Homo sapiens: one gene and its partner. Each later gene encodes a partner of the first gene's protein in a complex. Each region holds a gene or a part of one and is shown in the gene's direction. Other genes may lie near its edges.

Region 1 (16,346 bases):
CAAACAAACAAAAACCAGCCAGGCATGGTGGCTCATGCCTGTAATCCCAGCTACTTGGGAGGATGAGGCAGGAGAATTGCTTGAACCTGGGAGGTGGAGGTTGCAGCAAGCAGAGATTGCACCACTGCACTCCAGCCTGGTCAACAGAGTAAGATTCCATCTCAAAAAAAAAAAAAAACCACACCTTTTTCCTTTATAAATTATCCAGTCTGGGATATATCTTTGTTAGCAGTGAGAGAACAGACTAATACAACACCCATTTTCAATTTTTAAAAAATGCAACTTTGGGAACTTTAGTAAACTTGGATTATTGCAAATGAATAGGACCCAAAGAAATTCTCAGATGTCCTGTGTGTTAGTCTAGTTCTCAGGAAAGCACTTGCTAAGATGAAATTATATGTGCAAAGATTTTATTAGGGGAAATGCTTATATGTAAAGGAAAATAGATTTTAAGACAAAAACAAGAAGAGACAAAGAAGATCATTATATAGTGATAAACGGGACAATTCAGCAAGAGGATATAACGCTTGTAAACATATATGCATCTAACACTGAAGCACCCAGGTATATAAAGCAAATATTATTAGAGCTACAGACAGAGATAGGCCCCAACACAATAATACCTGAAGACTTCAACACTCCGCTTTCAGCACTGGACAGATCTCCCAGACAGAATATCAACTATCAACAAAGAAACATTGCACTTAATCTGCACTATAGAATAAATTAACCTAATAGATATTTACAGAACATTTCATCCAGTGGCTGCAGAATACACATTCTTATCCTCAGCATATGGACCATTTTCAAGGACAGACTATATGTTAGGTCACAAAACAAGTCTTAAAAGATTCAAAAAAATTGAAATAATATGAAGCATCTTCTCGGACCGCAATGGAATAAAACTAGAAATCAATAACAAGAGGAGTTTTGGAAACTATATAAACACATGGAAATCAAACAACATGCTCCTGAATGACCAGTGGGTCAATGAAGAAATCAAGAAGGAAATTGAAAAATTTCTTAAAACAAATGATAATGGAAGGACAACATGCCAAAACCTATAGGATATGGTGAAAGCAGTACTAAGAAGGAAATTTATAGCTAAAAGTGTCTACATCAAAAAAGAAGAAAAACTTCAAATAAAAAACCTAATGATGCATCTTAAAGAATTAGAAAAGCAAGAGCAAACAGAGCCCAAAATTAGTAGAAGAAACGAAATAATAAAGATCAGAGCAGAAATAAATGAATTTGAAATGAAGGAAACAATACAAAAGATCAACAAAACAAAAAAAAATGGCTACTATGAGCAACTATATGCCAATAAATTGGAAAACCTAGAAGAAATGGATAAATTCCTAGACACATAAAACTTACCAAGATTGAACCATGAAGAAATCCAAAACCTGGACAGACCAGTAAGAAGTAACAAGATCAAATCTGTAATAGAAAATCTCTCAGTAAAGAAAAGCCTGGGACCTGACGGCTTCACTGCTGAATTCTACCAAACATTTATAATGAGAGTAATACCAAGCCTACTCAAACTGTTCCAAAAAATAGAGGAGAAGGGAATACTTCCAAACTCATTGTACAAGGCCAGTATTACCCTGATACCAAAACCAGACAAAGACACATCAAAAAAAAAAAAGAAAGAAAGAAAGAAAGAAAGAAAGAAAGAAAGAAAGAAAGAAAGAAAGAAAACTACAGGCCAACATATCTGATGAATATTGATGCAAACATTCTTAACAAAATACTTTCAAACCTAATTCAACAATACATTAAAAAGATCATTCATCATGACCAAGTGGGATTTTCCAAGGGATGCAAGGATGATTCAACATATGCAAATCAGTCAATGTGATATATCATGTCAACAGAATGAAATCATATGATCCTTCCAATTAATGCTGAAAAAGCATTTGATAAAGTTTAACATCCCTTCATGATAAAAACTGTCAAAAGACTAAGGATAGAAGGAACATACCTCAATATAATAAAAGCTGTATATGACAGACCTACAGCTTGTATCGAACTGAGAGCCTTTCCTCTTAGATCTGGAACCTGAAAAGATGCCCACTTTCACCACTGTTATTCAATATAGTACTGGAAGTCCTAGTTAGAGCAATCAGACAAGAAAAAGAAATAAAGCCATCCAAATTGGAAAGGAAAAAGTCAAATTATCTTTGCGTGCAGATGACATGATCTTACATTTGGAAAAACCTAAAGACTCCACCAAAAAACTATTAGAACTGATAAATTCAGTAAAGTCTCAAGATACAAAATCAACATACAAAAATCAGTAGCATTTCTATATGCCAACAGCAAGCAATCTGAAAAATAAATAAAAAAAAGTAATCCTATTTGCAATAACCACAAATTAAATACCAAGGAATTAACCAAAGAAATAAAAAATCTTGGCCGGGCACGGTGGCTCATGCCTGTAATCCCAGAACTTTGGGAGGCCGAGGCGGGTGGATCACAAGGTCAGGAGATCGAGACCACCCTGGCTAACACGGTGGTGGGCACCTGTAGTCCCAGCTACTTGGGAGGCTGAAGCAGGAGAATGGTGTGAACCCGGGAGGCGGAGCTTGTAGTCCGAGATCATGCCACTGCACTCCAGCCTGGGCAACAGAGTAAGACTCCATCTCAAAAAAAAAAAAAGAAAAAGAAATAAAAAATCTCTACAATGAAAACTATAAAACACTGATGAAAGAAATTGAAGAAAACATCAAAAAATAAAAAGATATTCCATGTTCATGGATTGGGAGAATCAATATTGTTAAAATGTCCATATTACCCAAAGCAATCTACAGATTCAATGCAATCTCTAAAATACCAGTAACATTCTTCACAGAAACATAAACAATCCTCAAATGTATATGAAAGCACAAAAGACCTAGAGTAGCCAAATCTATCCTGAGCAAAAAGAATAAAATGGGACAAATCACATTACCTGACTTCAAATTATACTACAGAGCTATAGTAACCAAAACAGCATGGTACTGTCATAAAAACACACAGAGAGAACAATGGAACACAACAGAGAATCCAGAAACAAATCCGCATACCTATGATGAATTCATTTTCGACAAAGCTGCCAAAGAACATACACTGGGAAAAAGAGTCTCTTCAATAAATGGTATTGGGGGAACTGGATATCCACATGCAAAAGAATGAAACTAGACCCCTATCTCTCACCATATGCAAAAATCAAATCAACATGGATTAAAGACTTAAATCTAAGACCTCAAACTATGAAACCACTATAAGAAAACTTTGGGGAAAATCTCCAGGACATTGGTCTGGGCAAAAATTTCTTTATTTTTTTTTTTAAAGATTCTTGTTTCCAGTGGGGTTGGAAAAAATTTCTTGAGTAATACTGCATGAATACAAGAAACCAAAGCAAAAATGGGCAAATGGGATCCCATCAAGTTAACAAGATTCTGCACAGCAAAGGAAACCATCAATAAAGTGAAGAGACAATCCACAGAATGGGAGAAAATATTTTCAAATTACCCATCTGATAAGGGATGAATAACTAGAATATATAAGGGGCTCAAACAACTCTATAGAAAAAAATCTAATAATCTGATTATATCTGGTTAAGGCCAGGTGCAGTGGCTCACACCTGTAATCCCAACTTTGGGAGGCTGAGGCAGGTGGATTGCTTAGTCCAGAGTTCCAGACCAGTCTGGGCAATATAGTGAGACCTCTTCTCATAAAAAATAATTTTTTTTTTAATTAACAGAGCATGGTGGCATGCATCCGCAATACTAGCTACTCAGGAGACTAAGGTGGGAGGATCGCTAGAGCCCAGCATTGAGGAGTAGCAGTTGCAGTGAGCCGAGATCGTACCACTGCACTCCAGTCTGGGTGACAGAATAACACCCTGTCTCAAAATAAATAAATAAATATTTAAAAAATAAAAGTTGGGCAAAATATTTAGACATTTCTCAAAAAAAGACATAAAAATGGTAAACAGGCATAAGAAGAGGTGCTCAACATAATTAATCAGAGAAATGCAAATCAAAATTACATGAGATATCATCTCATCCCAGTTAAAATGGCTTTTATGCAGAAGTCAGGCAATAACAAATGCTGGCAACAATGTGGAGAAAAGGGAACCCTTGTACACTATTGGTGGAAATGTAAATTAGTGCAACCACTATGGAGAACAGTTTGGAGGCGCCTCAGAAAACTAAATCTAGAACTACCATACAATCCAGCAATCCAACTACTGTGTATATACCCAAAAGAAAGTAAATCAACTGTGTGTGGTGGCTCATGCCTGTAATCCCAGCACTTTGGGAGGCTGAGGTGGGCAGATCATGAGGTCAGGAGTTTGAGACCAGCCTGGCCAATATGTGAAACCTTGTCTCTACTAAAAATACAAAAATTAGCCAGGCATGGTGGCCTGCACCTGTAGTCCCAGCTACTTGGGAGGCTGAGGCAGAAAAATTGCTTGAACCTGGGAGGCGGAGGTTACAGTGAGCCGAGATCACACCACTGCACTCCAGCATGGGCAACAGAGTGAGACTCTGTCTCAAAAAAAAGAAAAGAAAGTAAATCAGTGTATCATAGAGATATCTGCACTCCCATGTTTGTTGCAGCAGTGTTCACAATAGCTAAGATTTGGAAGCAACCCAAGTGTCCATCAACAGATGAATGGATAAAGAAAATGTGGTACTTATTCATGATGGAGTACTATTCAGTCATTAAAAATAATGAGATTCTGTCATTTGCAGCAACATGAATCAAACTGAAGGTCATTATGTTAAGTGAAATAAACCAGGCACAGAAAGACAAGCATCGCATGTTCTCACTGATTTGTGGGATCTAAAAACCAACCAATTGAACTCACAAAGATAGAGAGTAGAAGGATGATTACCAGAGGCTGGGAAGGACAGTGGGGGTTGGGGGAAGGTGGGGAGGGTAACGGGTACCGAAAAACTAGAAAGAATGAATAAGACCTAGTATTTGATAGAACAGGGTAAGTATAGTCAATAATAATTGAATTGTACATTTTAAAATAACTAAAAGTATACTTGGATTGTTTTAACACAAAGGATAAACGCTTGAGGGGATGGATACCCAACTTTCTGTGATGTGATTAGTACACATTATATGCCTGTATCAAAATCCCTCTGTACCCCCTAAATATATACACCTACTATGTACCGACAAATATTAACAAAAAAGAGGAAATAAAAGAAGAAAAAAGTCAGAAGTCTGAACTAGTTCCTTTGGTGTGATAATCTTGCTAACAACTTCTCCATCTTTTATTTTGTGAATAAAAGGAGTAGGCATACTCTAAACAAAGCCTCTTTTATTATTAAGTTCCTTCTCATATTTGGAAAAATCCTTAATTTAACAGTCAGGAATTAGGCAATATCATTAAAGTACTATTTTACATCCTGAAAACAAGGAATTATTTTTACTTTTTATTTAATTTAATTAATTTATTTATTTATTTGAGATGGAGCCTTGCTCTGTTGCCCAGGCTGGAGTGCAGTGGCGTGATCTCAGCTCACTGCAACCTCTGCTCCCTGGGTTCAAGCGATTCTCCGGCCTCAGCCTCCTGAGTAGCTGGGATTTCAGGCGCAGGCCACCATGACTGGCTAATTTTTTTATTTTTAGTAGTGACGGGGTTTTGCCACGTTGGCCAGGCCAGTCTGGAACTCCTGACCTCAGGTGATCCGCCCGCCTCGGCCTCTCGAAGTGTTAGGATTACAGGCGTGAGCCACTGTGCCCAGCCTATTTTTACTTTTTAAAAAATTGAACATATAAATATATTTTGAGGCGTGCTCTTGCTACGTTGCCCAGGCTGGTCACGAACTTCGGGGCTCAAGCAATCTTCCTGCTTCAGTCTCCAAAGCAGATAGGACAACAGGTAGGTGTACACCACCGCACCAGGCTCTGAACATTATTTTTAATTCATATGAAGCAAAATTCAAAAGGCAAAATAAATTACAAAGAGCAAAAATCTCCTTCCCACCCTGTCTCACAACCAAACAGTTCCTTTCCCCAAAGAAACCAAGGTTACCACTTTGTCTTTTCAAATACATGTTACACATACACAAGCAAATATGAATATATCTTCCACCTTTTTACACCAATAATAGAGTATATAAATTGTTCACAGCTTCATGGTATTGGATTTTATGGATGTACTATACCTTATTGAATCAGTCCCCTATTAATGGACATTTAATGTTGTTGTTGATCTAATCTACAAACAATGCTGCAGTTAACAATCTTGTACATACATCGTTTTACATGTGCACGAGTATATGTGAAGGAAAATTTTATTAAAATCGACGAATATTTCCAAAATGCCCCCAATAATATACCAATCTTGCATTCTTCTCTACAATGTGTGAGTCAGGGACAGTTTTAGATCAGGAAGGTATGACATGGAAGATGGGGACACGTTGTAAATTTAGAATGCTACCCACTTGGCTATGGTTTTAGTACCCTTAAGAATCAAAGGGCTAGGCGCTGTGGCTGACGCCTGTAATCCCAGCACTTTAGGAGGCCAAGGCGGGCGGATCACGAGGTCAGGAATTCGAGACCAGCCCGGCCAAGATGGCGAAACACCGTCTCTATTAAAAACACAAAAATTAGTCGGGCGTGGTGGTGTGCACCTGTACTCCCAGCTACTCGGAGAGGCTGAGGCAGGAGAATTGCTTGAACCCGGGAGGCGGAGGTTGCAGTGAGCTGAGATCGCGCCAGTGCACTCGAGCCTCGGCGACAGAGCAAGAGTCCGTCTCAAAAAAAAAAAAAAAAAAAAAAAAGAATCAAAGGGCTCACAGAGCATAATAGTATTACCAAACACAATTTGTCTAGACATTCAGATAAGCTGAACTAATTAAGCTTTTTGCCTTTTCAGTCACTAAGTGCACCAAAATAAATTAGAATTTCCTGAATCAATTAGAATTTCCTTAGAATCAATTCAGTGGTGATGACAGGGCCCATTATGATGCAGAGTATATACTGAGGTCTGTGGATCCTAAGGCTCAGAGGATTCTCGCCGCAGCGTTGTTCGGCCCGAAAAGGCCATTGTGGACAATGGACGTGAATAAATTTGAGGCCTCTGTGGGTTTTCTCGATGTCAAAAAGTTCCTCAGTACCTGGAAGGTAAAACATACTTGCTGCAATCAGATGCTTGGCATATTAAGCGTTGGAATTCTCTCTGCCTGCCCTGCCTAGTGAGCGGTAGGGAGGAACTCAGGCTCAGCCAATCGCCGAGCTGTAGATACATTCCCAGGCTCCCTGCCGGACCCCACAACATCCAGCCTTTTTTTTGTTTTTTCTTTTTTTTCTTTTTTCTTTTTTTTTTTTTTGAGACGGAGTCTTGCTCTGTCGCCCAGGCTGGAGTACAGTGGCGCGATCTCAGCTCACTGCAACCTCCGCCTCCCGGGTTCACGCCATTCTCCTGCCTCAGCTTCCCGAGTAGCTGGGACTACTGGCGCCCGCCACTACGCCCAGCCAATTTTTTTGTATTTTTAGTGGAGACGGGGTTTCACCGTGTTAGCCAGAATCGATCTCCTGACCTCGTGATCCACCCGTCTCGGCCTCCCAAAGTGCTGGGATTACAGGCGTGAGCCACCTCGCCTGGCCTTTTTTTTTTTTTTTTAAGAGACAGAGTCTCAGTCGGTCGCCCAGCCCGGAGTGCAATGGCGCGATCTCGGCTCAGCAACCTCCGCCTCCCAGGTTCTAGCGATTCTCCTGCATTAGCCTCCTGAGTAGTTGGGATTACAGGCGCGTGCCACAACGCCCGGCTAATTTTTTTGTATTTTCAGTAGAGATAGGGTTTCACCATGTTGGCCAGGCTGGTCTCGAACTCCTGACCTCAAGTAATACACCCGCCTCGGCCTCCCAAAGTGCCGGGATTACAGGCGTGAGCCACCACGCCTGGACATTTTTTTTTTTTTTTTTTTTTTACAGGGTCTCATTCTGTGGCCCAGGCTGGAGTGCAGTGGCGATCCTGGCTCACTGCAACCTCTGCTGCCTGGCTCAAGTGATCCTCCTGTCAGCCTCTCGAGTAGCTGGGACTACAGGCGCGGTGCGGGCTAATTTTTTTTTTTTTTTTTTTTTTGTAGAAACGGGGTTTTGCCGTGATCCCCAGGCGGGTCTGGAACTCCGGAGCTCAGGTAATTCGCTCGCCTCGGCCTGCCAAAGTGCCGGGATTATAGGCGTGAGCCACCATTCCCTGCCCACCCGACCTTTTTGTAATTCGGCTTCCTAGCAGCGTACAGAAGCCCCGCGCTAGGGTACAGACAGGTCACGTGACACCACCTCCTCACGTGACGCAGACTCTGGAGCGGGGGGAGGGCGGTGCTCCAGCTGCATTGCGTCATCACGTCGCGCGGCCGCAGGGGCCAGACCCGGACGGCTCCAGAGCCTCCAGAGCCTCCGGGTCTGGGCGGCGCTTCGGCTCCTCCCGAGCCGCCTGCTAGCCCCGCGCCGCACTCCATCCCCACAGGCTGGGGACGGGCCCGGTGCGGCTGTGTGGGTTCGGGAGCGGAGGTGAGTTGCGCGGAAGTGATGGCAGTCAGCCCTTCCCTTCCTGTCCGTCAACTCCGGGTTATGGCCCTACCCCCCATCCTTGGTCTCCCTGCAAGGCGGAATGGGAGACATGCCCAACAGAGGAGGAAGGCTGGCAGTGGGGTGGGGCATCTGGCCTCGGTCACCCTCTCAACTCTCCCCCTGAACTGCCCCTCTCCGATACCTCCACCTGGCGGTGGCGGCCATATGCCTGGTGGTATTAGGAGGAAGGACTTCGTTTCCTTCTCTAGAATTTAGTCTTTCCCGAGTTTACTACCCATTCCCTGCCCCGAATCTCCCGAAGTGGAATCCCTCCATTCAGATGTTAACGAAAGTTCTAGAAAATAGGTCACTTCAGAAGGGTGAGGATGAAGGATATGCTGAGACTTGGAGTGTTGAGGCAGGAATCCCCTAGAAGGAAGACCACTCTGCACCGGGGTACTGTCATTTTGACACGGAAACGATAAAAGACCCCCCGGGCTGTCTTCATAGTAAATGGACATTTGTTCTAGACCTTTTTACACCCCTAGAGTTGCAACTAAGTTGACTTAAGTCTTTTTGAAAAACATATGCTTTGATGAATCACCCGCTTTTCTGTAAAATGGGTCTTGCAGAGTTGTTGGAGGAATTATCTATAGTGCTTATAGAGTAAAATGCCAACTACAAACAGAAGTAGATGAGAATTTAGGATCTCATTTTTCCTGTTGAAAGATTAATTGTGACTTGTGGACTTTTGGAGACCACAGTTTGATTTCCTTCCCCCCGGATCATTTCAGAAAGTTTTGGATTCCAATATCGATTCTTTAACAGTAATGGACATTCACAGATGTAGAGTAGGAATACCCTCTTGTTGAAGAGCTTCAATATCTTAAGCAAGTGTAAGTCCATCGATAACTTGCGTGGTTTCCATTATTCAGTGTAGGTAATGGGTCCTCAATTGAAGTTTCTTTTTTTTTTTTTTTTTTTGAGACAGAGTCTCGCTCTGTTGCCCAGGCTGGAGTGCAGTGGTGTGATCTCGGCTCACTGCAACCTCCACCTCCTGGGTTCAAGTGATTCTCGGGCCTCAGCCTTCTTGGTAGCTAGGATTATAGGCGCGCATCACCACGCCTGGCTATTTTTTGTATTTTTAGTAGAGACTAGGTTTCACCATGTTGGCCAGGCTGCTCTCAAACTCCTGACCTCAACTGATCACCCACCTCAGCCTCCTAAAGTGCTGGGATTACAGGAGTGAGCTGTTGGGCCCGGCCTGAAGTTTCATTTTAAGAAGAAATCCAGATATGTTTGGAAGTCATCAGACATATCATTTGGATACTTCTTTAGAAAAAAGTTTATTTTTACTGAGTGGCCTTTCTTGCTCTAAGTTGAAGTTGAATACACACTTTTTCTTACATTAAATTCTAAACATTTATTGTGCAACTTCTAGGATAGAAAGCATACATATAAAGCAGGATCCTCTTTTTATGTATGCTCTAAATACTTATCTACTTAAGGACATTAAATAGTAATAATATAACACCTTTAAGAAATTTTATATTTTCGGTTTATCATTTGAGACAAGAACCTTGTCAAGATTTACAAGACATATATTGTTTATCTCTACTTACATTTCAGCATTGATCATATTAAATGTCAAGTGGTAGGGACACTCCGTGATAGAGGAATTCAGAGGAAGAAGAGAGAGCTTTTACATGGACTAGATAGTGGCTAGTGGTTGGTGGTGATGCCAGGCATAGGAGTGCCCTCAACTTGTGTATGTTTGGGTCTGAGGAAGCCTCTTAGGTTCTTAATTTGTAAAGCTAATTAAATATGTTCAGTTGCCCTAGTTCTTTGAATATGCTCATTGTTTTTTTTTCCCTCTTGTAGTTGCAGAATCCAAGGACCCATTTTGTTCTTTCTCCGCACTGCTTTATGGGAGGCATTATGGCCCCCAAAGACATAATGACAAATACTCATGCTAAATCCATCCTCAATTCAATGAACTCCCTCAGGAAGAGCAATACCCTCTGTGATGTGACATTGAGAGTAGAGCAGAAAGACTTCCCTGCCCATCGGATTGTGCTGGCTGCCTGTAGTGATTACTTCTGTGCCATGTTCACTAGTGAGGTAAGTGGTAAATTAGCCCCACACAAATGAAACCCGTGGAACTCTAGTTGTCTAATTTCACTGAATAAAATAGTGGAAGTTTGATATAATTTTGAATTTTTACAGTGTGATGTTTTGGCAGATTCTGGATAAGATCTACCACTTAGATGACTATGCCTTAGTTTCCTCATCTTTAAGTTAGGGATAATAGTAATATGTAACACATGGTTATTAAGGTTGTTGTGAAGATTATTTTATGAAATAACATAGGAAGTGCTTAGAATAGTGTAATATGTAGTAAAACACACATGTCAGCTATTGGATTTTACTATTTCTTAAATTTGTCTTCCAATTTTTCTCCTTTTTTTGTTTTTAATTTTATTTATTTATTTGTAGAGACAGGGTCTCACTATGTTGCCCACGCTGGTCTTGAACTCCTGGGCTCAAGCAATCCTCCTGCCTTGGCCTCCCAGAGTGGCCACACCTGGCATTACAGGTGTGAGCCACGGCATCCAGCCTTTTTTCCTTCTAAAGTTTAAAAATTTTTAAGTGAATACCAGAGGGATAAGGAGGAAGGAAGGAGAGAGGAGTAGGATTCAAACCACATCCCACTCCTCCTAACAATATGTGAAGAAAATCAGTGTAAATTTTAGGATAACTTCAAATGAAAGGAAGAAGAGTTTTTAATGAATAGCTGTACAGGCGTTGAGTGTATAACCTGAGAAAGGATGTTAACTCATAAGCACTTAACAAAGGGAATTAGGAAAAGGTTGGCTTGAGAGAATACAGGTAGTGCTCACAAAGTATTAAGAAACACTACTTAGTAATTGCCTGACAAAATACTTGAAATGTATAGTAAGGCTGCTGAATATATTGTGTTGAATATTCTTAGAAAGCTGAACAGAAAATAACATTGCAAATCTTTGTTTTTCAAGATCCCAAGTCTCATTTTAAGAGCAGATTTAAATAAATTATCTTGATTTATTTTTTCAAAGCTCAGTTGTGGGTGCATCACTGTTTATTATATAATTTACACTTACATGTATGCCTGAAATATTTCATTATGAAAACACTGTTTTAAAAGTCTTTTTAAGCACAAGTTTTTTGTTTGTTTTTTGTTTTTTTTTTAGTTAGTTCTATCATCTTAGTGTAGATATTGCTGCTGAATCAGAATGGGAGAGGCGTATTCTGTGATGGTAATAACTACCTTTTATGGGCCAGGTACTGTGCTAGTAATTGTTGTGCATATCTGACTCACCCTAGGGGTAGGTATTACCATCTCATTTTACAAATGAAGGAATAGGGTTTCAGATATTAAATCACTTGCCCAAAGTCCCATGGCTTGTAAGTGCTAGAGGTGGGATTTCATTTTATATTTTCCAACTCTAAAGCCCAAACAGTTTGTAACTCTTGTGCCGCCTTAGCCTCCGAAGTATGAATTTTATATACTACAATCTAATTTTAAAACTGGTATAGTTAAAAATACTATGAGCCAATGCTCAGTCACATGGCTAGTAGGGAAAACAGGAACCTGACAGGTCATTCCAACTAATTCAGGCTAATTTTTAAATAAACTTGTGTGATATACCAAGGCAGATCCCTGTCCTATACTGTTCTCCATGAGATATACCCAAGATCATCAGAAGCATTTGGAATTTAACTGGGTAAAGAGAGTGTCACCCAGCAGCTGCTGAGCAAGAAATGAACTAGAACGGCTGATTGCTAATTATATGTTGTGCATCCTGTTTTTTGTCAGCTTGAAAATAGTGTCTTTACTCTTTTGTTATTTGGAAATGAATTCTTTTTTTCTCATCAGTGATGATTTCTTTCTTTAAAAACTGACATCAGGCAAGGAAATGCTAGATGGTTTTGTCTTTATTTTTGAGAGTAATTGTTCAAAGGAGAGAGTCCAGAGACCTGGATTCTAGGCTTAGTTCTCTTAGCAATTCTGTATAAACCCTGGGAACCATCTAACTTCACTGGGTTGATCTGTAAAATAAAGTAGTTGAACTAGATGGTTTCCTTGTTCTCTTCAGCTATGAAATGCTCCTCAAATGTCATCTGATTGAAAGATCACAAAGACTGAGGCAGGAGGACCTGGGTTTTGTCTCTCTCTCTCTCTCTTTTTTTTTTCCTGAAATACTTTAATAAGAATGATATCTGTCTCTTACTAGCTAAGTGACTGGTTAAGTCTTGGATCTTCAGCTGGGCGTGGTGGCTCACGCCTGTAATCCCAGCACTTTGGGAGGCCGAAGCAGGTGGATCACGAGGTCAGGAGATCAAGACCATCCTGGCTAACACGGTGAAACCCCGTCTCTACTAAAAATACAAAAAATTAGCCGTGCGTGGTGGCGGGCGCCTGTAGTCCCAGCCACTCGGGAGGCTGAGGCAGGAGAATGGCGTGAACCCGGGAGGCGGAGCTGGCAGTGAGCCCAGATCACGCCACTGCACTCCAGCCTGGGTGACAGAGCGAGACTCTGTCTCAAAAAAAAAAAAAAGTCTTGGATCTTCTTTGATCTTTAGACCCTTTATCGCTCTCTCTTTTTTTTTTTTTCCTTGACGCCTGGCTAATTTTTTGTATTTTTAGTGGAGACGGGGTTTCACCATGTTAGCCAGGATGGTCTCGATATCCTGACCTTGTGATCCACCCACCTCGGCCTCCCAAAGTGCTGGGATTACAGGCTTGAGCCATGTGCCCGGCCCCCCTTTATCTCTTAGATAGTAATAATATCAGACCTAACTACCTTACCAGGTTGCTGTGAGAATCAGATGAAATAGTAGTAAATGAGAAGCATGCTGAAAAATTCTAAAGCAAAATATAACTGTAAAATGTATAATTGCTCTAAGTTCTTACATAGTGAAATTGTTTCCATATTTAAACTATTTGATGGAAATGTAGTTTATTGAATGAGAAATTTCTGGAATACATGTACTTACATATTTCAGTACCATAATTATTAAATGCATTTAATGTGTTGGGATAGTAATTGTTTATGAATATTAGTACTGTATTAAATGTTAATAAAACCTAATATGTTTTTTCAAAATAATGTGCTAGTGACTTTTTTAGTGTTAGGGATTGATTTTGTTCTTGGCTTTGGTAGAGAGTGCTTTTTGGTTATTCTCTGGCTGATGGAGAAATAAAAAACGTTAAAGCCATTTAGTTAATAATGGAGATGCACCAGAGTTTTTTAAGTAAAATGAATTTCTAAACTAAGATTAAGATCTAGTAAAATTTTCATAAGGTATTTTCAGATAGTTTCCTGTAAAATTGAAGATTTCTTCTCTTAGCTAAACAGTTTTCTATGATTATCTGGCCTCATCAATACTCATAGCTTCAAGAAGATATACTACTAACAATTTAGACTAAATATACTGCTAACAATTCAGTTAGTCTAACCCAATATTTTGAAAAAGTAACAAATAATTTATTTGTATTCAGATGATGTTACATAAGAAAGTCCCTTAGGATGACCTGCATGTTCTTTTTCGTCATTACTAAATGCAGTCTAAGGGCCGGGCATGGTGGCTCACGCCTGTAATCCCAGCATTTTGAGAGGCTGAGGTGGGCAGATCACTTGAGGTCAGGAGTTCAAGACCAGCCTGGCCAACATGGTGAAACCCCATCTCTACTAAAAACACAAAAATTAGCCAGGCATGGTGGCATGTGCCTGTAGTCCCAGCTACTCAGGCGGCTGAGGCAGGAGAATCGCTTGAACCTGGGAGGTGGAGCTTGAAGTGAGCCAAGATTACGCCACTGCACTCCAGCCTGGGCAACAGAGCAAGACTGTGTCAAAAAAAAAAAAAAAAATTAGCTGGTTGTAGTGGTGTACTCCTGTAATCCCAGCTACTTGGGAGGCTGAGGCACGAGAAACACTTGAACCTGGGAGGCAGAGGTTGCAGTGAGCTGAGATCACACCACTGCACTCCAGCCTGGGGAACAGAGCAAGACCCTATCTCAACAAAGGGGAAAAAAAAGTAGTCTAAGGACAGATGATAGGAACTAGGTAGTCCTGGAGAGACTGGAGTTATAACCCACAGGCTCCTCTACGAACATGAAATTTCTTTGAAATATTGTGTCTTATCTTAAAAGTTCACGGACCAGTGTTATGTTCATGGAACTTTTGCATTCTATTCTGTAAATACATCTGTATTTTAATATGAAATAGATTTTTAAAGTTATTCACTGGCAAAATTACTATTCCAGGAAGGTGTTACCTATTACTTATTCCTGGCGTATAGATAACTACCTACTTCATTTGGAAAGCTACAGATAATGTGCCATATTTGCTTTATTAAAATCCAACAAAATTGGCCGGGCGCGGTGGCTCACGCCTGTAATCCCAGCACTTTGGGAGGCTGAGGCAGGCGGATCACGAGGTGAGGAGATCGAGACCATCCTGGCTAACACGGTGAAACCCCGTCTCTACTAAAAGTACAAAAAATTAGCCGGGCGTGGTGGCGGGCGCCTGTAGTCCAAACTACTCGGGAGGCTGAGCCAGGAGAATGGCATGAACCCAGGAGGTGGAGCTTGCAGTGAGCCGAGATGGCACCACTGCACTCCAGCCTGGGAAACAGTGCAAGATTCCGTCTCAAAAAAAAAAAAAAAAAAAAAAAAATCCAACAAAATAGAGCATAATTTTATTTTTTTATTTTCTTTCTTTTTTATTTTTTTGAAATGGAGTCTCACTCTGGTGCCCAGGCTGGAGTGGAGTGGCACAATCTTGGCTCTCTGCAACCTTCGCCTCCTGGGTTGAAGCAATTCTCCTGCCTCAGCCTCCTGAGTAGCTGGGACTACAGGCATGTGCCACCATGCCCAACTAATTTTTGTATTTCTAGTGGAGACGGGGTTTCACTGTGTTGGCCAGGCTGGTCTTGAATTCCTGACCTCAGGTGATTTGCCTGCCTTAGCCTCTCAAAGTGCTGGGATTACAGGCATGAGCCACCACGCCTGGCCTGTAATTTTTAAAGATAAATGTTCAATTAATATTATTAACATCTCTAAGCTCTTAGATATGAGATTCTGCCTTTATCTTGTGGAATTATAACCATCATTCTTTTATACCTTTTGAATTTTCAGCTCTCAGAGAAGGGGAAACCTTATGTTGACATCCAAGGTTTGACTGCCTCTACCATGGAAATTTTATTGGACTTTGTGTACACAGAAACAGTACATGTGACAGTGGAGAATGTACAAGAACTGCTTCCTGCAGCCTGTCTGCTTCAGTTGAAAGGTACAGACATTAAAACTTGCTATTGTTTATGTCAAAATAGCCCTGGAAAGGTTGAAAATTAATAGTGTAAACTTAATCATGAACATTTTGGAGACAAACTATGGATGTTCATGTTTGCTGGCCATGGCTTTTGTCTCATTGAGCAATAAGAGATCAGATGTCAATAGCACTATAAAGGAACTTCTCCAGATATGAGTATTTGGCTCTATAAAAGAGAGCATTTGCACCTTTTCTGTTTTAAAAAAAAAATGGAGGAAGGAGAAATTATGTGTTTTCTTACATACATGTATGTAACACACCTATAAGGAAATATAATAAAAAAGTGATACTATACATAGCCTACATGGATACTCTTTATCTATCTGGCCATTAAGTGGTAGTATTTCATTAAGATACATGAAATTTAAATTGATGCACAAAATATTAAAGTATGATATTTTCACAGGATTACAGGTGGTTTGTTTTCCCTTACAATTCCCAGGT
Region 2 (16,288 bases), on another chromosome or scaffold:
GGAAGCAACAGAGAGCAAACCGGCCAATTGGTTCTCCATTTCTCAGCCTTGGGAGCCCAAAGAATGAGTGTAGTCGCCTTGCGGAGTAGCTTTGTTTCATCGCTTTCAGTGACAGCAAACGTGTTCTGCTCAGAAACTTTTTCTTTTTTGGCATTACGTTGAGTCGTACCCTTGCGATGTTTAGTATATAGGATATAACTTTGGGTGTCAAATCTGGTTCAGCTTCCCCGTGGCAAGCAATTAAAATGTACTGTTAACGAACTGGGCATACTTGCCTATGTCGCTACAATAAAAGGCATACGTCAAGACAGACGAACTAGCAATCGGACAGAAGATTTTAAAAAGTAAAATTAGAGAAAGATCTTGGTCTTCCCTTCTTAGATTCATAAATACTTCATATGATGTACCAGCGAAAGAGGGGGATTTGTTGTCACTTTTTAAAGCATGCTTTTCCTGAAGCGCAGTTGCAGTGAGGAAAGACTTACCTTGATGTGATTGCCCCAGTTGAGTCAAGTGATTTAGTTTCAGAGAACATGAGGACCTCTCTGAATTCCTAAAATTTAAAAGGATACACCTCATGCAGAATTCTGAAATTGTAAGAACATAAATACTAAAGTCAGTGTGCGAAAACCTCTGCTTTGTGTAAATAGGTACGATGGAATTTAGGAGAATAAGTGTTTTGATAATAATTAAAGATTTTTTGAATGTTTCAAACTTTTTTCTAAGTAAACGTGAGAAATGTTGACAAGCGAGTACTAACGAAGCTTACTAGTATGTTTTCCCTTATAATTGGGCAGAGCTGGGTTATGCATTTGTGAGTGATATTAATTTTCCTACTAAATTCTGACCACTTTAGAGTTTAGAATTACTTAGAATTTTATGAAGTTAATAGTTGTATACAACAGATTTTCTTTTTTTTTGAGACAAGAGTTTCGCTCCTGTTGCCCAGGCTGGAGTACAATGGCGTGATCTCAGCTAACCGCAACCTCCGCCTCCTGGGTTAAAAGCCTCCTGAGTAGCTGGGATTACAGGCATGCGCCACCACACCGGGCTAATTTCGTATTTTTAGTAGAGACGAGGTTTCTCCATGTTGGTCAGGCTGGTCTCGAACTCCCGACCTCAGGTGATCACCGACCTCGGCCTCCCAAAGTGCTGGGATTACAGGAGTGAGCCACCGCGCCAGGCCTATATACAACAGATTTTCTAGCAGTGTGTGCAGCCTTACACTACTCAATTCTTGAAGTCTCATGTTCTAAATAAGATTTTTTGCTAAAATGTGGAGTAACTCAAATTTGACATCAACTCACTCAAGTTAATGGCCTTCTGATTGACCAGTTGTACGTTAATGTATGTGTAATTAAACTCTTTGACCTCTTCAGGTTTCCCTGCTCTTACCTGTTTTGCCATCATTTAATTTGTTCAGCAAATACTGAATATTATGTGCCAGGCACTGTTCTGGGGGTCTGTCAGTATAGCTAGAAAGACCAAGATCCCTGCCTTTTGGAGCTAATATTGTTGGGGAGAAGAGGTGGGAGAGAATTTCATTATTCCTTTAGCTGACCAGTATAATAACGTTGTGTGATACGTTACCACATAGTACTGGAACTGAATTTTTTTTTGTTAGCTTCGTTATGATTATGAGCTAATTTGGATCCATTCTGTCTATAACTTTTGCAGGTTTTTCTGAAAACCTTACATGAAGTAAGTGACTAGTTTTGGTATTCAGTAGTTAATAGCTGCTGATTTCTAAAAGAATTTTTCATTACTGTTTAATAAGTATTAATAACATTCCTAAGTGATTCCCATTGGAAAGAACTATTACAGTTTATGGCCCTTTGTTACAGATAGATGTATATCTCAGTGTTAGGGTGTTTCATAGATTTATCTTACTAACCGTGTGCTTATAGACCTTCAAAATTCCTGTCTTCCAGATTGGCAGTCTTGTTCATAACTACAGACTGCGTGAGTTGCTAGTCAAAAGTAGTTAATACCTAGTGTTCCGTAAAGAAAAAATATGGCCGGGCGCAGTGGCTCACGCCTGTGATCCCAGCACTTTGGGAGGCCGAGGCAGGTGGATCACCTGAGGTCAGGAGCTTTGAGACCAGCCGGGCCAACATGGTGAAATCCCATCTCTACTTAAAATACAAAAAATTAGCGGGGCGTGGTGGCGGATGCCTGTAAACCTAGCTACTTGGGAAGCTAAGGCTGGAAAATCGCTTGAACCTGTAAGGCCGAGGTTGCAGTGAGCTGAGATCGCGCCATTGCACTCCAGCCTGGGCAACAAAAGCGAAACTCTGTCTCAAAAAAAAAAATTGTTTATGGTTATACATATGTACATCCTTAATTGTTTATGGTTCCACATATGTACATATTTAAAAATTATTGTATTTTACATCTGTTGTTTGGATGTATACTTACTGTAATTTAAGGGAAACTGTAGTTTCACCAAAAGTGTCAAGCACTCGGCCGGGCAAGGTGATTCACACCTTCACACCTGTAATCCTAGCACTTCGGGAGAGGCAAGGCAGGCGGATCACCTGAGGTCCTGAGGTTAAGAGTTGGAGACCAGCCTGGCCAACATGCAAACCCCTGTCTCTACTAAAAATACAAAAATTTGCCAGGTGTGGTGATACACGCCTATAATTCCAGCTGCTCGGGAGGCTAAGGCACGAGAATCACTTGAACCTGGGAGGCAGAGGTTGCAGTGAGCCAAGATCGTGCCACTGCACTCCAGCCTGGGCAACAGAGTGAGACTGTCTCAAAAAAAAAAAAAAGAAAAGAAAAATTATATATGTTTAAGATGTACATGATGTTTTGATATATGTATACATTCTGACATGATTACTACCATCAAGCTAACACATAATCACCTCTTTTTTTTTTTTTTGAGATGGAAACTCGCTCTGTCACCCAGGCTGAAGTGCAGTGGCACGGTTTCAGCTCACTGCAACCTCCGCCTCCTGGGTTCGAGCGATTCTTCTGCCTCAGCCTCCCCAAGTAGCTGGGATTACAGGCGTGTGCCACCACGCCTGGCTAGTTTCTGTCTTTTTAGTAGAGATGGGGTTTCACCATGTTGGTCAGGCTGGTCTTGAACTCCTGACGTCGTGATCCGCCTGCCTTGGCCTCTCAAAGTGCTGGGATTACAGGTGTGAGCCGCCACGCCCGGCCAATAGTTCTGTTTTTTATGTCTGTGTGATGAGAACAAGTAAGATCTACTGCCATAGCAAATGTAAAATATGTAATATAGTATTATTAACTGTTCTTAACTGTGCTGCACATTTGATCTCCACAATGTATTCATCTTAAAACTTGTATCCTTTGACCAAAATCCACGCCCCCATTTCTTTCATTCCCCAGCCTAGGCCTTAGAGCAAGACTCTTGTCTTAAAAAAAAAAAAAAATCTCAAGCACTCATCTCAGATTGTTTTACAAAATTAACTTGTAAAAAAATATAGAATTGTGTTTTGAGATTGTTTTCATTGCAAAATAGAGTGGTAATTGAACTTACTGGATATTTTATAGATACTACTCCAGATAAATTCCCATCAGTAATATCAGATTCTTTTTAGTGTTTTGAGTGCATTTTTTTTTTCTTTTTTGAGACAGAGTCTTGCTCTGTCGCCCAGGCTAGAGTGCAGTGGCACGATCTTGGCTCACTGCAGCCTCCACCTCTTGGGTTCAACCGATTCTTGTGTCTCAGTCTCCCAAGTAGCTGGGACTACCGGTTTGCGCCACCACGTCTGGCTAATTTTTGTATTTTAAGTAGTGATGGGGTTTCGCCATGTTGGCCAGGCTGGTCTTGAACTCCTGATCTTAGGTGATCAGCCCACCGCTGTTACGCAAAGTGCTGGGATTATAGCTGTGAGCCACCGCGTTTCAGCCTTAGTGCGTATTTTAAGTATACCTTCATCATTGTCTGTAGAAGTTATAATACACAACAGTTTAATGCACAATTTGCATTTTTAAATAGACCTTTTCCTAGAAGTTCTTTTTAAGATGGAAGACAATAAGGACGTTTCTGTATTTGTAAGCTGTTGACAAAGGAAAAGTTTATTCCAGTTTATAAGCTTTCCCGCCTTGCACAAAATGTATCATTTCACATCTTTTTGATAATGTTTAAATTTTAATTTGTATGCAGAGGAACAAGGACCACAAAACTTTTTAAAGAAAGCAGGCTGTAATTGTGAAACTTCTGGAAATAATGTGGGTCTGGATCAAATAATTCTGCCCCAGGGAGTCTCTTCCTTACTCCTGGGCTTTGTTCCACTATGTAGGATTAGTTGCTTTCAGGTGAACCTTTTATTATCTTTATCTTTGAAAAATCATTTCTTACCATTTTTACTGTCTGGGGTTTTGCCCACATGGGTTTGATGAGCTTGATTAGAATTGGAGAGGATACGTTTGAATGAAAATGCTGTCCTTTCCTGTATCAAACGGTAATAAAGCCTTTCTTGGCCTAGCCTTCAGAGTTTGGGAAACCTGTTATGAAGGTGACTGTCTCCAGAATGTAATCAGGCTCTTAAGATCTCTACCCTGGGGTCCTGGAAGTAGCTTCAGTTAGTTTATAAAAGCTTGCTAACTCATCAGGAGAAAGAGTGTTATGATAAAATGCCCACTCCCTAATGCTAGAGGAACTCCACTTGTGTAGCATGGACAGCAACTGTTTGGAAGTGATTGTTAGCTGGAACATACAGGGCGACTCACATTAGTGAAGGAGTTTTATGTTCATTTGTGATATACTTAAGAACAGGAAGAGTCTTAAGGACAGATGGGTACAGTTAATCTTTTTTTTTTTTTCTTTTCTTCGAGCTACAGAAATGTTTGCCAGATTTGAGGGAACAGCTTTCATCTTCATAGTAGGTTTCTCTTTCTTAGGGAAGGTAGTTGTTGGCATAGTACTACCTGGACTGGTACATAGAGGAAAGCTGGATGGTAGTCTTGCAGATCACACTGAGCAGAGAATTAATTATAAATTTGCTTTTCATTTTTCATGTTATGAAACAAAGTGAAACAGATTCATTAAAGTGTTACTTATACTTAAACTAATACTGTTTATAGTTTTGGGACAGCCAGTATTGTCATAGCTGTTAGTACTACTATGACTTTAGAAGTTAGAAAAATAAAAGCATACGGTTGTTATTAACAAAGTATTTATTTTGTCTTGTCTTTCTAGATAGCAGTTCAGAGGAACCTGGAAAATTATTAGTACCAATATTGAATTAGAAACTATTTAAGTAATATGAAATATAATGTAAAAATTTGGCTTTTTAAGTAATACATAAATCACAAACTTGATTCAAACAAATTAGAGAATGCTTCATTTGTTTGTACATCATTCATTAAATGAAGTTAAGGGATGAAAGCATTTGTCCAGTTCAGGAAGATTATATGATTAAGGCTAGAAAAAGTGGTATGCCTTTTTTTTATATTATACATTGGGGGACTTTAAAGGGAATTTTTTGTTATTTTCATTCCAGAGTACATGGATGGTCTTTAGTAGTCCTGTTAGGTTTATATAAAAGTTACTAGACAATTTGTAGTTTTAAATAATGCAACTTTTTTTTAAAAGTAGTTCTTGTTAGCCCATTGTAAGGTCAACAGAATGTAAAGGTATTACTAGTAAGAACAAATCACTGAGTTAACACATGAATTACAATTAGTTATTAGTCTATCAGTGTCTTGTGAAAACTATTCAACCATAGTCTGTTAAAGCAATGAATTTATTTTAGTAGCTTTTCTAATTATAACAATGATGTATATTCCTGGTAGAAAAATTGATAATTATCTAAATGTACAAGTAGGGAAATAAAAAAAATCACCTGTAATCCTACCACTTGGAAACAAACAACATTAACATTTTCATGTGTTTTTGGAATTTTAATTTCATATTGTTGGCTGAACAGACAGTAAAATTAAGGTAAGATAATCATTGTATATGCTGCTGTTAAAAAATTTCTTACTGTAAATTTTTGAAAACATAGTTTTTAATGACTATCATACTTCAGTTTGCTTAACCATTTCCCTATTGCCAAATATTTTGGTTGATTCCAGGGAGTCCATATTTTTTCTGTTAAAAAAGATTGCAACTATGACTATTTAGACACATAAATATTTGAGTCCATCTATGATTATGGAATTATTGGGCTGCACGTAACTGAAATATATTACCTAATTGACCTCCATAAGGGTAATAATAATAGCTAACACTTTCTAAATGCTTATCATGTACTCTGCATATCTAAACTTAATCATTTGAGCAAACTCTATTGAATACTACTATTATCTGTTCTACAAATGAGGCTTTGAGAGGCTAAATAATTTGCTTAAGGTATTCTTCCAAGTGGCAGAACTAGGATTCTGACCCAAGCAATCTGGCTCTAAAGTGAGCACTCTTAAGAATTAATTATATTTCTCAAGGTTGTATCCGTTTAACTTCTGTGTAGCAGTATCTTACCCAGCATAATGTATGTTTAATTTTATAGGTGAAAAAATAGTACTTTAATGCTTTAATTTGCATTTCTTTGACTACTTAGGAGAATAAAACTATGAATAGTCTGTAGAGAATTTTCATTTACTTTTGCACTGGAGTATTCAACATATGAATATAGGGATGTGACTAAAAAGTAAAGAGACTGAAAGCATAGTAGTTAAGAGTGTGGGCTTGAATACCAGCTCCATGTCTTTCTAGCTGCATCACCTTTTTTTTTTTTTTTGAGACAGAGTCTCCGCTCTGTCACCCAGGCTGGAGTGCAGTGGCGTGATCTCAGCTCAGTGCAAGCTCCACCTCCCGGGTTCACGCCATTCTCCTGCCTCAGCCTCCCTGGTAGCTGGGACTACAGGTGCCTGCCACCACGCCTGGCTAATTTTTTTGTATTTTTAGTAGAGACGGGGTTTCACCGTGTTAGCCAGGATGATCTCGATCTCCTGACCTCGTGATCCGTCTGCCTCATCCTCCTACAGTGCTGGGATTACAGGCGTGAGCCACCGCGCCCGGCCTCTAGCTGCATAACCTTTAACAAGTTACTTCTTGTAGCCTCAGTTTTCCCCTGTGTAAAATGAGACTGCTAATGAGACCCACCTTACAGGTTTGTTGTGTGATAAATAAAATAAAGCTTTAAAATAGAACTTAGCAGATAGTTAACTATTATTATACCAATATTTAGCCACGATTAGGCCAATATTAAAATTGGATGTTGTTTTTGCAAGCAGTTACATCGAATGCCATACACTTATTTTAGCGATCCTGTCATTTTATTGTACAACTTCTAGAACTTAAGTTTTGAAAAGCCTGCAGAGCCAGTTTGTGAATCGTTCTAAGAAAGCATTCTCAAAGGATATGGGTTTAGTACCACTGGGATACTTAAAGAATCCTGTTGGCTCTTGAGGGGTGGCTTCAAAAACAGAAGTTCATATATGATTCACATGTAATCCTTAGAGTAAGTGTGTAACCTCTTGTAACTTTATTGAAGGAATAAACACTCATTTGGTTTGCATGTTCTATAATATGTACGTTAAATGTGCATCTAAAAACACATCTAGTTTTTCTTTTTTCCTTCCTTTCCTCCCTTTCTCCTCCTTCTCCTCCCCCCCCCCCCTTTTTTTTCACTCCTGAACTAGGTTAGGTTGTGGTCCCTGTCCAAAGCTTATGCCAGACATCGTTTTGAACCATGCAGCATTTAGCATAGTGTGAGTGGTTAGTGAATGATTGATTACATGAGAAACTAGTCCTCTAAGCCAAACCATAGTAATTGATAAATTCAGTGAGTCAGCGCAAATGATGCTCTGAAATGTTTGAAGTTTTTGTAACTCTAAGTGAAGTCTTAAGATGTAGTAGAGGGTCGTTAAAGATCATGTGGCACTTCTGTATGTAGCAGGGTAGTCAGCCTAGTCTCCTGGAAAAATGAGTTGAAATTGTCAGTGACCCTGAATTGGGAGTTAGAAGACTTAGTCTGCGGTCCAGTCTTTCTGTTTACTAGCTGTGGTCTACATTTCACTTCCTCCACCATGACTGTTCTTCGCATCTCATCCCTTCCTGTCACACTGTTAAATTGTACACTCTGGTCCCCTATTTCTCAGGCTTATCTTTTTGAATTGAGGTTTCTATTACAGTCCTTGAATTATTGGGCCCAGATGTGGTTTATTGCCACTTCCATCATCATCTTTTTTGGCTTGAGAATTACTCTCCTGCTCTCTCCCTATGACCATCTGACTTCCTGAACTCATGCTCCCTCAGTCATTGAGGAGTTTAATACCTTCCTCACAGATACTATGTTAATACATTCCTCACAGATATTATGTCTAGCCTCTATTTTAATTTTGTTCATTGCATGTGGAAGTCATTCATTTATTCAATTTAAAATACGTTTATTGTGTGTTGCTGCTATGGGTCAGGTCCTGGATCTACAGTGGCGATCAGACAGGCTTGTATTGCAGGGATCTTCACGCTTAGAGCTTGTCATCCTACTAGTTTAAAAATCTTCAAACTTCCATTTTGCATTTTATCCTAGCTCTTCTGTTTGTTAGATGTAGGACTTTGAGCAAATCACTTAGTGTCTTGTCTGTTCCCTCTTTTGCAAAAAGGAAAAAATGATGATACCTACCTCATAAAATTGTTTTAAAGATGGAGTTAATACATATAAAGCTTCTTAGAATAGTGCTTGGCACATAATAAGCATTATACATAAATGCAAGGTGTTATTATTTAATTATTCTATCTTGTTGCTTGGTTCCTTCTCACGTTAATGTGCCCTTTGATCTCAGGAAGACCCATTTATTCTCCCAAGCCATGGTGCTGTCACTTCCACCTATGTTACCAGTTGCCCCTTTCTTACTACCTCCCCAGAACAAGGCCAGAAATAGCAGCAGAAAGCATCTTGGATCGTTCTACCTATTTGCCCCCACTGAACATATTTTCTAGCTACTCCTGGAGAAAATTGCAAGACAGTGGTCTCTAATTTAGCTGGACTCTCAGTGCCTCTGAGCAGTTTCCTTTATGTCCCTGGTCAGCTTCCTCTCCCCTTTCTTGCCTGAGCTATTCCAAACTTTAATCATTGTCCTTAAGCTATCTCTTGAGAATTCTCAAATTGCTCTTACTTCAAGAAACCTAACTACTACATCAGTGTGAAAAGGAATGTAATTAGGTGAAAGTTCGAAGTTCATTCAGCATTCTTCCCTTTCAATTATATTATTTAATCTGCATCTTTATTCATTCTCGACTCCTTCCCTCTGGTCTCAGAGAAGGAAAATGTCTTTTTCCTGTCTTCTGCATTATAGTAACTACCTCCTTTCACAGCCAAGATTCTTGAGAGAGGAGTCTCTATTTCCTTTTTTAGAGCATAATTTTCTTGAGGAGGCCTCAGTCTTTTTTATGACTTTGATCAGTACAGCAGTACGCACCCAGCATATAGTACACAATGTTGAATAAAGGAACTAACAGACTCTTTAAGTTTGTTTCCTCCTCTTTAAGATGAGAACTACAGCAGTCTTTCACAAATTGTGAGGATTAAATGAAATCATGTCAGAAAATGCTAATAGTGGTATCACTATGACATTTAAAAGAATTTCCCAATCATAAAATCAAAATTTTCAACTATAATTCTGTTTCATGTAGGGCAGTTATTTTCAAACGTTTACAGGGAGCCTGGAGGGTGTCTAGGACCCAGGAGGCCTAGGAAGTGTTAAGTAGAAATCTTTGAAAGCTCCCTCTGTGGTCCTTGAGAGCAGCTCCTGTGTTACCATTTGTATATGGGGTTCTGTAAAAGATTTCATTTTAAGAAATGCTGTTAACCATTGCTTTAAAATCACTAGTAATAATTATTAATGAATCTTTTTTAAAGGTGAGGAGAATACTACTTGCTCAACTTGATAACGGTTAATAGGAAATTGAGAACTGATCCTGTAGTTGCCTTAACTCCTAATCCAAATCTGTTGCTACTAGACAGCATTCTTTTTTTTAAATTCAGTTTTAAAGTTGAAAATGTAACTAAGCAAAACTTCCTAATTTGACCTCCATTTAGTACTTGTAATCATTGAGAAAGGATTGGACCCAAATTTACTCTTTAAATGAGAAATGTTACTGCTGAGCAGATGAATAAAACGACTTCAAAGGGGAATTTTTACCTACTTTAAGAAAATATAAGATTCCTTAGAGATACTTTCTTATAAAAGCAAGCCATCATTGCTAAGAGGAATTCCTTCACATATGTGTTTGTAAGTCATTCTTACCTAAAACAGCTCTTAACTGAGCAACACTTAGCCTCTTCTGTTTGCCCTGTCCTCTCCAAAGTAATGGTGAAAAATTCCTTTTTCTTTTTCATCTCCAATTCCTTTCCATTTCCACTAGAGGTTGCCTTGTAAGATTAGTGACAACTTGTTGAATGTCTGACTTGTGGTAGGCTGTTTTAGATACTTTTAACTAATTATCTGAAATCCTGAAAACAATTTTAAGTATAATGTGGTTACTCCTGTTTTAAATCTATTTGGGTCTCAGAGAGGACTAGTAAAATATTTATGATATTACATATACGCCTAGAGAAGGGCAGAGTTGGGATTCAGATTCTAGGTATGTCTGACTGAAAAGTTCATGTTGTTTTCATTATACAGAAAATTAATTCTAAGGTTACCTTTTAAATTATTAGCCAGGGGCAGATCTGGGGACGCTGAAGCTTATACAATGCACTACTCTCTTTACAAAAAGAATCTACCTTCAGGTTCCAGGAGTTGGAAGAAGCCTTCGTAAGCTTCCTTCGTAAGCTTAAGTTTTACTGGCTTTAAGTAAATGGACCATTTATAAAAGTTATGAAAAACTTGGGAAATGTGTATTGTTCAGTAACATTTGAATATATAACTTGTTTAAGGGGACCTTAGTGTGTATTGACTTGAATAAAGCAGTCAAAAGCATAACCTGTAAGAAAGGCTTATTATTACTAGTTGACCTATTTATGAGTTAACACTTTGCTACTTTAAATTGTAAGGCCGACGACACACATTAAAAAAATTTGGTTAATAGAAATTTAAGTATATACTTAGCAAAAAGTGATTCCTTGAAGTTAATATGTCTAAAATACTTTGATTTTTGATTTTTTGTCTTTAAGAATATACTAAAGAGATAGATTAAACAGTAAAATGTATTAGAAATACAAAGATTAAATTCTCTAGTAATAATTTACTACTTTTGGTGTACGCAAATGCAACATGAAAGAAATAATGCTTTTTTGATGAATGCTATCACTAGCCAAATAATAATTTGTGTGCTCTTGTGTTAGTATTTTAATTTTTGAGGGCTAAAAGTGACTCTTGAAATCTTTTTGTGGTGCTATAACAAAATCCTGCAGACTGAGTAATTTATAAAGAACAGAAATGCATTTTCTCACATTTGTGGAGGCTGGGAAGTTCAAGATCAAGGTGCTGCAGGTTCTGCTGTCTGGAGAGGGCTGCTGTCTGCTTCCGACACGATGTCTTGATGCATTGTCCTCTCGGAATTCTTTGGTGGGGACGAATCCTGTATCTGCACATGGCAGAGACAGAAGGGCAAAAAAATAAACTCTCTGTCAGCCTCCTTTATAAGGCCACCTAATCCCATTCACAAGGGTTCTACCCTTATGAGTTAATCACTTCCTGAAGACCCCACCTTTTTTTTTTTTTTTTTTTTTTCTCTCACTCTCACCCAGGCTGGATTGCAGTGGCTTGATCTTGGCTAACTGTAGCCATGCCCTCCAGGGCCTAATGGATTCTTTCACCGCAGCCTCCTGGGTAGCTGGGACGACAGGTGCAGGTCAGCAGCAATTTTTTTTTTTTTTTTTTAAGAGACAGGGTTTCACTGTGTTGCCCAGGCTGGTCTCAAACTACTGGGCTGAAATGATCCACACACTTTGGCTTTCAAAAGTGCAAGGATTACAGGCGTGAGCTGCTGCACCTGCATTGCCGTACCTTTTAATACTGTTAAATTGATGATTAAATTTCAACATGAATTTTGGAGGAGACACAGGCATTCAAACCGTGGCAGAGACTTTTGAGAGAATCTGTTCTTTCTCAACAGATGAGCAAACAGGGGTCTAGAGAAAGTGGTTTACCAAGGGATACACTCCTGACTTGAATTTATGGAAGGACCATGACCAGAAGCTTGATTTCTGGTTAAAAGCTCTTTTCTCTTTAGCAGACTGAAACAAACATGTAGCCGTAATAACTCAATGTTAACACTGGCCTATTTAATTATAAAATGATTTCTCAGTATTGAGCACTCTGATTATTTGAGTTGACATGGTACCCTGGAAGGACACTCAGCTTAGGACACTTGGACTCCTTCATTGCTCTGTGTGATCTTGGATAAGCTTCCTTAGCCTTAGTTTCTTCTTTGTGAAATGAAGAGGTTTTAACTTGGGGTTACCTTAGGCTTATTCTAGCTCCAAAAATTTCAGTAAAAGACAATTGTGTTTATACATAAATCTAGGCACCGACTACTAGTGTCTTTTCCTGTGGCCTTTGTTTGAAATATTTTGTGTGATGTTGCAAAAATTACTTACTTTTTAGTCTTAGATTTTTCTTTATGAATGGTATGGTTCAGTGATGATGGTTAAGTTCTAATGTGAAGCAGTGGGAAAGTTAGCTGTGTTCTTGTGTACATTTTTTTTGGTGAGTTGACAGTTGTAGGAAAGTTTTAAACAGACTTATAGCAGATTTTTGTAACAATTTTGTGTCATAGACCTTTTGCTGTCATATCTTATTTGATTACAGTTAGAATCATTCAAAGACAGAGCAAACTATGGCAGTTCGGTATTTTGTATGTTTTTTTCCTTTCCCTTTGGGTTATGTGTAATTGATTTAGGTACAATCAATTTGTCATTGTCTTACAGTTTATAGAGTTTTTATACATTATCATAGATGAATGTGTAAAAAGTAATTTTATATACATGTGACCCATGTATAAATAAATAGTAGTGTTAAATAGTATAAATAGTAGTGTTTTGGATTTCATAGTATATTGGGAAATACAACAAATTTTATTTTGAAGTGTTGATTTTAGATATAATCACTAATTTTCTTAATATAGAGGGTCTGTAAGTACAATGTTTGAATTCTAGTTATGATGACTACTGTGTTTTTTGGATAAAATGTGTTTAAGGGAGTCCTGTAACATCTCTATTTTTATGGGTGGAAATAGCACCAATAGTAGGACAGTGACAAGCTTTTTACCTCAGTGAGAGTACTTACATTATTGTATCTTATTTGTTGTGGTCATTATCACATTTTGAAATGTTATACATACCTTTTTTTCTATATATGCAAAAGTCATTCACAGAGATATAGTCGAAAGAGTTGTTAGTACTTTTAGCTCAATTGCTCTGTGACTTAAATGGACTTAAATAGGCTAATCTGGAAGCTTGACCTTGTGTCTTTGAAAAAATTGTTTCACATTTCCCACATTCTCAAATTGAGTTTTGGATAGCCTACTCATATTGAGGACTGAAATGCAAATCATAATTGAACCTTCTATTGATGATTTAACTTTCTCATTATGAATGTTACTGTTCTGTAATGTAATGATACTAGAGCCCAATTGAATGTCGATCAGGTTGTGATTTCATGGAATTGTCCCATGCTGCTGTGCTTTTCTAATTGATAATCTTTTTTTTTCTTTTTCCTTGGCATCAGCTCTTTTTTTGGCAGCACTCCCCCACTCCCATCTGTTCTCCACTGTAACCAGAGAAACCAGTTAACCAAACATCAGTAGTTTTTACATTCAGTTTTAAGTCACTAATCAAGGCTATATGTCTCTTCTACATAGGCAAGGAAGAAACAAACATATTTATTGAGCAAGTGCTGTGTGCCAGATGCTTTCACAGACTTTCTTAATTACCCCACAGTCCACCGTCTCACGTTTCTCTGGCCACAAGCAAATGAGGAAAGTGAGCTTTGAAAGGTTAATTTGTTCAAAGTCTGTTTGAATGTGTCCCACTGGGCTGTTTTTCTCAAAGCTTGGATCTTTGGCTACATTTTTGATGGTTGATGTTGCTTAAGGAATAATTGATGGATAAATGGTATTATTGCAGATGTCATAAGTAGTTGTATACTGTTTGGTCATCAAATAAGACTCCTTATCATTAACTGCAAATGGACTGTATTCAGATCATTTTTTTTTAATATTATCTATACATTGTGCCACGCATTGTAAGGGGTACAATAACATAAAGACCTTATCTACTGTGAGGTGCTTACAGTTTGGGAGGGAGCTTCCTTATGTAATTAATAGTTTAGTTGTATCAGATTTAAAAAATACTGCCATTCCTCAGATGCTTGTACCAAAGCTTTTTTTTTTTTTTTTTTTTTTGAGACTGGAGCTTGAAATTAAGATCAAGTATTTTCCCTTGTTTATTTTTTTTCTAGCTGTGTCATTCTGAATTGCCTGGAATTTCAAATTCTCACCCTTTCCCCCACCCACCCTGTTCTAAATTTTTTCTTGTAGAAAATTATTCACAGAGGACTAAAGACTTCTTGTCCTTTGTATGTAGTAGATGTTAAGAATTCACTTCTTTTCATTTAGTTTTAATTTGTCTCATGATGTAGTTCTCTCAGTAATCACAGAACCTTCAAGATGTGTAAGTATATAATAGACTGACATCCTTTCAAATTCAGGCATTTTGAAGGTTATATTTTTTATATCATCTGAAGTAATGTAAATGAAAAGATTTTGCTTTAAAGAAAACAAAGACCATTATAGATTTATTTTTGTTATTGATACTTTTCTGATGGGAAAATTGTAATCCTGGATTGGAGGGAGGTAAGGAGGCAAAGATCACTTTCAAAAATTAAATTCTTGACTTGGTTTTTGAAAGTCTTACTAAACTATAAACATTTAAGAATCCTTAATTATATTTTTCCTTTAAAAAAGCTTTTGTTTCTTTTTCTGCTGAATGAATTTAATTTGCTTGCTGATCATTTTGTAACTTGGCCTTCTTGGGGAAGGGTCCTGTATACATCTGATAATTAGATAGCAAATATTACATGTTTGTGTATATAGATGATAAATGTGTGTGCAGTTTATTTTATTGTTTTGCTGACGCATTAGTTGCTAGATCCCTTAGTGTATTTGCAGTTATTGCAACTTAATCAGTTTATCAATGGGATTAAAGCCCTGCTCAAGTAATTTAGAATGTTACTTTAAAAGAATGTTACTTCTCTTTTAAAAAATATATTAATACATAAAGTTAGAGCCTTTAAATTTTATTGCTCCTGGAATGAAGTATAGCTTAAAGTTTTTATTGTTAACATATTGATGAGGTGAGAGTTGAACATTTAGGCATTTAAAAAATTTTTCAGTAGCAGTTAATGTTGCTTCTGTGTCAGGGATGGGCAAGTGGAAAGATTAAAGCTCATTAGTAACATAATTATTTTGCCAAGGATGTTGACGTGCATTTGATGCCAAGACCCGATCATGTGTATGTATTAATCTGCACTTGAAGCCCATTTCATTTGATATGTAGTTTTTGGACTTATTTGATTTAGGGAAAGATTGTAGCTTATTGATCTGCTTCTGAAGGGCCTATTTCGTCTACCCTTTTTTTCCCAGTTAATATTTATTAGTAAAATTAATGATTAAGCAGCCTTCTGGGTGAGGCCTTTAGGTGAATGGGAAAAATCTGAAAATATTGCTTGATGTAAAATTTAAAAGTGTGTTACTTGTACACTACTTCTGTTAGAAAAAGATTTGATTATTTAAAAATTAGATTAATTGCTGAGGGTAAACACATTCAACCGTTTTCCTGTATCATTGTGCCTTATAAGTAAAAAGTTTGTGTTGTCAAAATTACATTGGTATAACATGGATAAAGTAGTATTCATTCAACAGACATTTGTTTACAACCTTCTGTGTGGCATTGAAGAAAAATGCATAATCTCTTAAGCTCATAGTCTAGTGGAGGAAGATGCATGAACAGATAATTCAGCTACATGGGAGTGTAGTGATGGTTACAAACTGTCACTAGTAGTTATAGACTATCACCACATTCCCATATAAACGAAAATACACTACAGTTTATTTAGTGTATAGTTAAGTAAATACAGTTTACACTATAAAATATCACGGAAGAACTGAGAAGGAGTTGTTAACTTTGCTTGAGGAGTTCAGTGAAGGATTCCTAGAGGTTATGACACCTAGCTGTGTTCAGAAGATATGTGTAAAGAATCAGATAAAGAAAAGGCAAAGCAAAGGAGGACCAAAAGCAGGGGGGAAAAAAGACATGGGAACTGAAATAAGTGGGGAGGGGCTGTGACAGTGATGGAAATAGAGTGA

Evidence for each region.
Region 2: KLHL12 (region 1) and CUL3 share a complex: the UniProt entries of both Homo sapiens proteins name them as parts of the BCR(KLHL12) E3 ubiquitin ligase complex.

Annotation. Positions count from the first base shown.
Region 1 is NC_000001.11:202,919,272-202,935,617, reverse strand, and holds the start of KLHL12 (kelch-like protein 12), read left to right. Parts: upstream 1-8,383; 5' UTR 8,384-8,529; intron 8,530-10,410; coding exon of another isoform or gene 10,411-10,455; coding exon 10,456-10,650; intron 10,651-15,709; coding exon 15,710-15,863; intron 15,864-16,346. UniProt on the Homo sapiens protein: Substrate-specific adapter of a BCR (BTB-CUL3-RBX1) E3 ubiquitin ligase complex that acts as a negative regulator of Wnt signaling pathway and ER-Golgi transport.
Region 2 is NC_000002.12:224,567,995-224,584,282, reverse strand, and holds part of CUL3 (cullin-3), read left to right. Parts: intron 1-14,327; exon of another isoform or gene 14,328-14,510; coding exon of another isoform or gene 14,511-14,594; intron 14,595-16,288. UniProt on the Homo sapiens protein: Core component of multiple cullin-RING-based BCR (BTB-CUL3-RBX1) E3 ubiquitin-protein ligase complexes which mediate the ubiquitination and subsequent proteasomal degradation of target proteins.